Linked DNA regions of Homo sapiens. The protein of the gene in region 2 interacts with the protein of the main gene of each other region in a pairwise test. Each region holds a gene or a part of one and is shown on either strand. Other genes may lie near its edges.

Evidence for each region.
Region 1: the proteins of CRX (region 2) and LONRF1 interact in binary tests that used the Homo sapiens proteins (3 or more experiments, as listed by UniProt).

The regions. Positions count from the first base shown.
Region 1 is NC_000008.11:12,749,027-12,752,526, forward strand, and holds part of LONRF1 (LON peptidase N-terminal domain and RING finger protein 1), read right to left. Parts: intron 1-3,500.
Region 2 is NC_000019.10:47,831,937-47,835,436, reverse strand, and holds part of CRX (cone-rod homeobox protein), read right to left. Parts: intron 1,029-3,500; 5' UTR 994-1,028; coding exon 894-993; intron 1-893. UniProt on the Homo sapiens protein: Transcription factor that binds and transactivates the sequence 5'-TAATC[CA]-3' which is found upstream of several photoreceptor-specific genes, including the opsin genes.

The DNA of each region.
Region 1 (3,500 bases), on a different chromosome or scaffold from region 2:
TGCTTACCTCTAAAACACCTACATTTTATAACTGCTGTGAGGATTGAATAAGATAATGCATGTTAAACAGTTAACACCAAACCTAAGACATACATGCTCCATCTATAATAATTGTTGATAACATTCCAAAATATCTCAAAACAAAGTGATGAAGATATTAGATTAACCCTTGATACAAGATACAGAAGAGTATTTTCTACCTTGTCTTTTACCCACATAAATGGTAGCCTAGATAAGAAACATCTTTAGGGATCAGGAGAGCAGACTGGACAACAGACAGCACAAAGGTGGGTCAAGGGGATGGGAAGCAAAAGACCTTACCAAAGGGAAAGAAAAAACCAAACAGAAGCTTCCATCTTGCATTTTAGAGTTCCCTGAAGTCATTCAACTTCAATAATAAAACAATTCCAATTTTGAGAAATACCTTTGGAAAGAGGCAGAACACTATACAAATTCATTTAAAATTTTACTCGAGATTTTCCAAGGCTCTTAGAAATATTCCAACAAACAGAAAAATGATTCTGAATAAACAAAAAGTTAATATATAAATAACTAGAAATCTAAGATAATTCAGTTTTGGTAAATTCTGCATTTGATGAATGAAAAACAGTTAAAAAACAAATTATTCATTTGAAATGGGACACTTGAATCAGTTTTTTTATCATTTATATCAAAAGCCATTACAGTTGATCTTTTTAGTAACCCTGAGGCACTAAGAAAAAAAATCCTTAAAGTACCTTATGAATCAAAGAAAATAATTAGAGATATAGTCTCGGTTAAGTAGAAGCCAATTAAGCAGTAAACCCCATTTTCTAGGGATTTTCAATTTGCTGCAATTACAAAAGAAACAAAAAATACAAACTCTACAAGGACAGGGACTTTATTTTACTCCTTTTTTATATTTCTAGCACCTAAAACAATGCCTGGTATATAGTAGCTACTCAATAAAAATTTGCTGAATAGTAAGAATATTTTAGATTTATGTTTTGCGTGCTAATTTTTAAATCAACTTTGTGTTTTGAATCAATATGCACATATTTGGGTTCTGCTTTCAGTTTTAACTTGGTCACTTACTTCCCTTAAGAAAGTCACCCAAAATTCTTGCAACTTTTCTTACATCTGTGAATTAGGGATATTAATACTTGCCCTCCTATCTCACATGAGTTTGTGTATGGATCAATTACGATAATAGAAATGAAAATAATTGTGAACTATAATCACCATACAGACATCAGTGTTTACTGTTTCAAGTCCTCTGCACAATAAGTAAGGACATAAATAAGTTAGCAAGAGCCTCCCTTTACCCAAGGGGGATACGTTCCAAGACTCCCACGGATGCCTGCAACTTCAGATAGTACCAAGCCCTATATATACTATCATACCTGTGATAAACTTTAATTTATAAATTAGGTGTAGTAAGACATTAGCAACAATAACTGATGATAAAATAGAACAATATAACAATATGCTGTGATAAAACGTACATGAAAGTGGTCTCTCAAAATATTTTATCATACTGTACCATGTGGGTAACTGAAACCACAAATAAGGGGAAACTACTGTATTGTTTAAATTCAAATTTCTTCATTTTAACCTAGTTGAGTTACTAAAGATAATAAAAACCCTCTACATTTTCTTTAAATGTATTCAGTATTTACCTATAATTTGACTGATCTTCTGATAGCTAAAGCTTTTAAGTATCTATAGTTTATTGATGAATGCTAAACTGCTAGTTAACATGTGTAAACTAAAATCGGGATGTAATTGTTACTCTCTACCAAGTGATAGAACAGAACAGGATGTAAAATTGCAAGGTTTAGATTCCACTTTCAGCAAAATCCCCTTCTAGCCGTAACACACTTCTACATTTTAAAAATATTGAATTAATATTTACTGGGCATTTACTCTGTGTCAGGCACTATTTAAAGCACTTAGCATGTTTTGACTCATTTGATTCTCACAACACCCTATGAGGTAGAGACTATTCTCATTTTTCAGATAAGGAAACCAAAACACAGATAGGTTAGGCAACGTGCACAAGGTCGGAGAGAGGCGAGGGCTGCGTCAGGATTGGAACCCAGGTGTCAGCTTCCAGCATGCAGAGCTTTAATCACTAAGCCACACTGCATGTCTATCCATAGATGCCTCAGTTTCCCTCTGAGGATAATATTACAGTACTCCATAGAATTCTCTGTGAAGATCAAATGATATTAATATAAATAATGTAAAAATACTGGGTAACAGTCAAGGATTATATTTTTATTTTTATGTTTTTTTTTTTTTTTTTTTTTTTTGAGACTGAGTCTTGCTCTGTTGCCCAGGCTGGATGGAGTGCAGTGGTGTGGTCTCAGCTAACTGCAACCTCCACTTTCCGGGTTCAAGCAATTCTGCCTCAGCCTCTGGAGTAGCGGGAACTACAGGCATGCACCACCACGCCTGGGTAATTTTTTGTATCTCTAGTAGATACGGGGTTTCACCATGTTGGCCAGGCTGGTCTCGAACTCCTGGCCTCATGCGATCCGCCCGCCTCGGTCTCCCAAAGTGCTGGGATTACAGGTTTGAGCCACCATGCCTGGTCAAGCATTACAGAATTAATATTAAAGACAAAATTTTCCTTACCCAAATATTTTAAAACAAAATATCACCCCCCCACCTTACAACCTTTTTTTTTTTTTTTAACCTGTACAAACTGTAAATTATACTGTTCTGTTGTCTTCCTCTGGGGGAGAGGTGAACACACGAAGGAGATAAGTCAGTGTAAAAAAACATTAAACACAAAAGGCAGGCAGCATGGCTTAGGGGGATCATTTCAGTAGGCTCAAGCACAGAGATTCAGTGCAGGAAAAACTTTACATAATATCCCTGAATACTAAAAAGACAGAAAGTTATGAAACATCTGAGAGTTAATACCAAAAGATCAATGGTTTAAATGTTATCTAAATATATTTCAATTCAACAGAAACTTATGTAATCTAAATGGGAAACTTCTGATTTTGGCAAAGGTTTTCAAGCTTTCTTTTGCTGCTGGCAGAGATAAGTTTGGATGTGTGTGGGCTAACTGCAGACTAGATTTTTTCTAGTTAATAGTATTTACTTGTTTCATTATAAGAATTATACGAAGAAATTATAGTGAAGATCTTTTTTCATTATCAACAATAATGACAAGATCATTAATAACTACAACCGTACAGTTATATAAATACATGTCAAATGCCTAGCTTGCCAATTCCAAAGAAGTTAAAGCCTAAGGATTGTACAAACAGCTTATGACTGTACTAGTTAACATTTTGATTTACACCCATAAATTGTGAGACACTTATAAATCGGCCCTTTACCAACTCTAATTTGTTAGCTCTGAGATTTTTTTCCTGTTAGTTCACATTAAGAATTCAAAAGATTAAAAAACTTATCCTCATTAGTGCCATTCAGACATTTTCAAGCATGGAATTAATGATTCTTGAAAGAACTAAAAATGAGGAAAAAATAAGCTAATGCAGTGA
Region 2 (3,500 bases):
CTCCAGCCTGGGCAGGAGCGAAACTCCGTCTAAACTGTGTCTCGAAAGAAAAAAAAAGAAAAAGAAATAAGGCTTTGCAGGCCAGGTGCAGTGGCTCATGCCTGTAATCCCAGCACTTTGGGAGGCTGAGTCAGGCGGATTATTTGGACCCAAGAGTTTGAGACCAGCCTGGGCAACATAGGGAGACCCAATCTCTACAAAAAAAAAAATAATAATAATTTTTTCTATGTTTTGTATAATCCAGATCCTGCAAAATCTACAAAAACTTAAAAAAGTTAGCCAGGCATGGTGGCGTGCACCTGTAATCCTAGCTATTTGGGAGGCCAAGGCAAAAGGATCGCTTGAGCCCAGGAGTTCGAGGCTGTAGTGAGCTGTGATTGCACCATTGCACTTCAGAGTGGGCAACAGAGTGAGACCCTGTCTCAAAAATAAAATTAAAAAAAAAAAGTGCCCCCCGGGCCTAGGCACAATGGCTCACACCTGCAGTCCCAGCTACTCAGGAGGCTGAGGTGGGAGGATTGCTTGAGCCCAGGAGTTCGAGGCTGCAGTGAGCCGTGACCACCACCACTGCACTCCAGCCTGGGTGACAGAGTGTGAGACCTTGTCTCTGAAAAATAAATAAATAATAAAGTTTTGGTAACAGATGAAAATTCCTCTTGATTCCCCTTCCAGATTACATCCCCTCTTCCTCACCCCAAAAGGAACCTCTGTCCTGAATTTCTAGGACTGCTAATGTTTTTCTAAGTGACATACATTTCAGATGAACCCAGAGGGCTGGTGTATGGCCCTGAAGTCGCCCCTGTGATTGCCTTCTTCCTGGGGGCAAAGGGACCCCAGAGGTCCTCCAAGAGATGAGGCCAGCCTGGGGTGCCAAGAGAAACGACTGTACTCACTTGGGTAGGGCACAGCCTGGTGCATCAGATCCACACTGGGGCCACTTAGGGCCAAGGCGTTGACAGAATAGTGGGGCCCCGGGTTCATATACGCCATCATGATCTTCGGGGACACTGAGGCCCAAGTCAGGGGGCCTGCAAGAGAAGAGGAGGGATGCTCACTCACTTACCAGTTACTCACCATGGGGTGACGTGCAGGCTGCGATTCAAATCCTGCCTCCTTCTCCTCTTAGGTATGTGACCTTGGCCATTTATCTCACCTCTCTGTACCTCTGTGTCCTCACATGTAAAATGGCCTCTGCTTAAGGTTCTCAGAGCTTTCTTGAGACTCTGCAAAGCAGACAGCTGAAGCCATCATGTGCCTCATAAGTGCAAGCTCTTATTCCTACTCTACCCTCTAAAAATCTCGTCCTGGCTAGGCACAATGGCTCACATCTGTCATCCCAGCACTTTGGGAGGCCAAGGCGGGAGGATCACTTGAGCCCAGGAGTTTGAGACCAGCCTGAGCAACATAGCAAGACCCTGTCTCTTAAAAAAAAAAAAAAAGTGTTCTTTAAAAAGTTAACTGGGTGTGGTGATGCATGCCTGTAATCCCAGCTACCCAGGAGGCTGAGGTGGGAGGATCACTTGAGCCCAGGAGTTTGGGGCTGCAGTGAGCTGTGTTCAGGCCATTGCACTCCAGCCTGGGTGACACAGCAAGACTCTAAGAAAAAAACAAAACAAATCTGATCCTGTTACACACCCTCATCCAAGATCCCTTCTTTCTTGACCATGGGCAAACACGCTCAGCCTCACTTATAACCCAGGACTGCAGGTTGACCAACCGTCCCTCTTTGCCCAGGTTGGAGGAGAGGTGGGTGTTTCTTGGAACACAGGACTTTCAGTGCTAGAGCCAGAATGGTCCCAGGCAAACTGGATTGGTTGGTCACCCTAAGGGAGAGTGGCATTAAACCAACAGTAAGGGCCAGGCAAGGTGGCTCACGCCTGTAATCCCAGCACTTTGGGAGGCTGAGATGGATGGATCACCTAAGGTCAGAAGTTCAAGACCAGCCTGGCCAACATGGTGAAACCCCATCTCTATTAAAAATACAAAAATTAGCCAGGTGTGGTGGCGGGTGCCTGTAATCCCAGCTACTTGGGAGGCTGAGGCAGGAGAATCACTGGAACCCGGGAGGCAGAGGTTGCAGTGAGCCAAGATCGCACCACCGCACTCCAGCCTGGGCGACAGAGCGAGACTCTGTCTCAAAAACAAAACAAAACAAAACAAAAAAACAAAAACAAAAACAAACAAAAAAACGACAGTAAGGGCTAAGCAAGGCGGCTCACACCTGTAATCCCAGCACTTTGGGAGGTCAAGGCAGGAGAATCACTTGAGCCCAGAAGTTCAAAACCAGCCTAGGCAACATAGTGAGACCCCCATCTCTGAAAAAAAGAAAAAGAAATAGTGAGACCCCCCATCTCTGAAAAAAGAAAAAGAAATAGACCCCTATCTCAAAAAAAAAAAAAAAAAAAAAGCGAGTGTGGATCTTCCATGATCACTTTTGACCTATCAGGTTGGCAAAGATGAAGGAGGTTGATAACTTCCAGCACTGGTGTCAGTGTGGGGAAAGGCACACTCCCATGGCAGATAGGTAGCAGTACAGGTTGTAACAAACTGTTATTGAAGTAAAATGCCATCTTTCTTTTGTCCTAGTAATTCACCTTCAATGTATACCTCAGTCGCCTTGTTGGAAAATGGGAATGAAAATCGCATTTATGGGCCAGGCGCAGTGGCTCACACCTGTAATCCCAGCACTTTGGGAGACCAAGGCAGGCAGATCACTTGAGGTCAGGAGTTTGAGATTAGCCTGGTCAACATGGTGAAACCCCGTCTCTACTAAAAATACAAAAATTAGCTGGGCACAGGGGTGCACGCCTGTAGTCCCAGCTACTTGGGAGGCTGAGGCAGGAGAATCGCTTGAACCTGGGAGGCGGAGGCTGTAGTGAGCCAAAATGGTGCCACCACACCCCAGCCTGGGCTACGGACTCCGTCTCAAAAAAAAGAAAAGAAAAGAAAAAGAAAATAGCATTTATGTTCAGGTGGCAACATAGCGAAACTCTCCTGTCTCTACAAAAAATTAATTTTTTTTTTAAAGTAAGCCTGGGCGCAGTGGCTCATGCCTGTAATTTCAGCACTTTGGGAGGCCAAGGCAGGCAGATCACCAGAGGTCAGAAGTTCGAGACCAGCCTGGCCAACATGGTGAAACCCCGTCTCTGCAGAAAATACAAAAATTAGCCGGGCATGGTGGCGCGTGCCTGTAATCCCAGCTACTCGGGAGGCTGAGGCAGGAGAATCGCTTGAACCCGGGAGGCAGAAGTTGCAATGAGCCAAGATCAAGCCACTGCACTCCAGCTTGGGCGACAGAGCGAGACTCCGTCTCAAAAAAAAAAAAAAAAAACATAAGGCTGCTCTCTGAACTGATTTTAAAAGATCTCCATTATATAGTTTTAAAAAATTGTTCTAGGGGCCAGGTGTGGTGGCTCACATCTGCAATCCCAGCACTTTGGGAGGCCAAAGCAGGCGGATCACCTGAGGTCGGGAGTTCGAGACCAGCCTGGCCAACATGG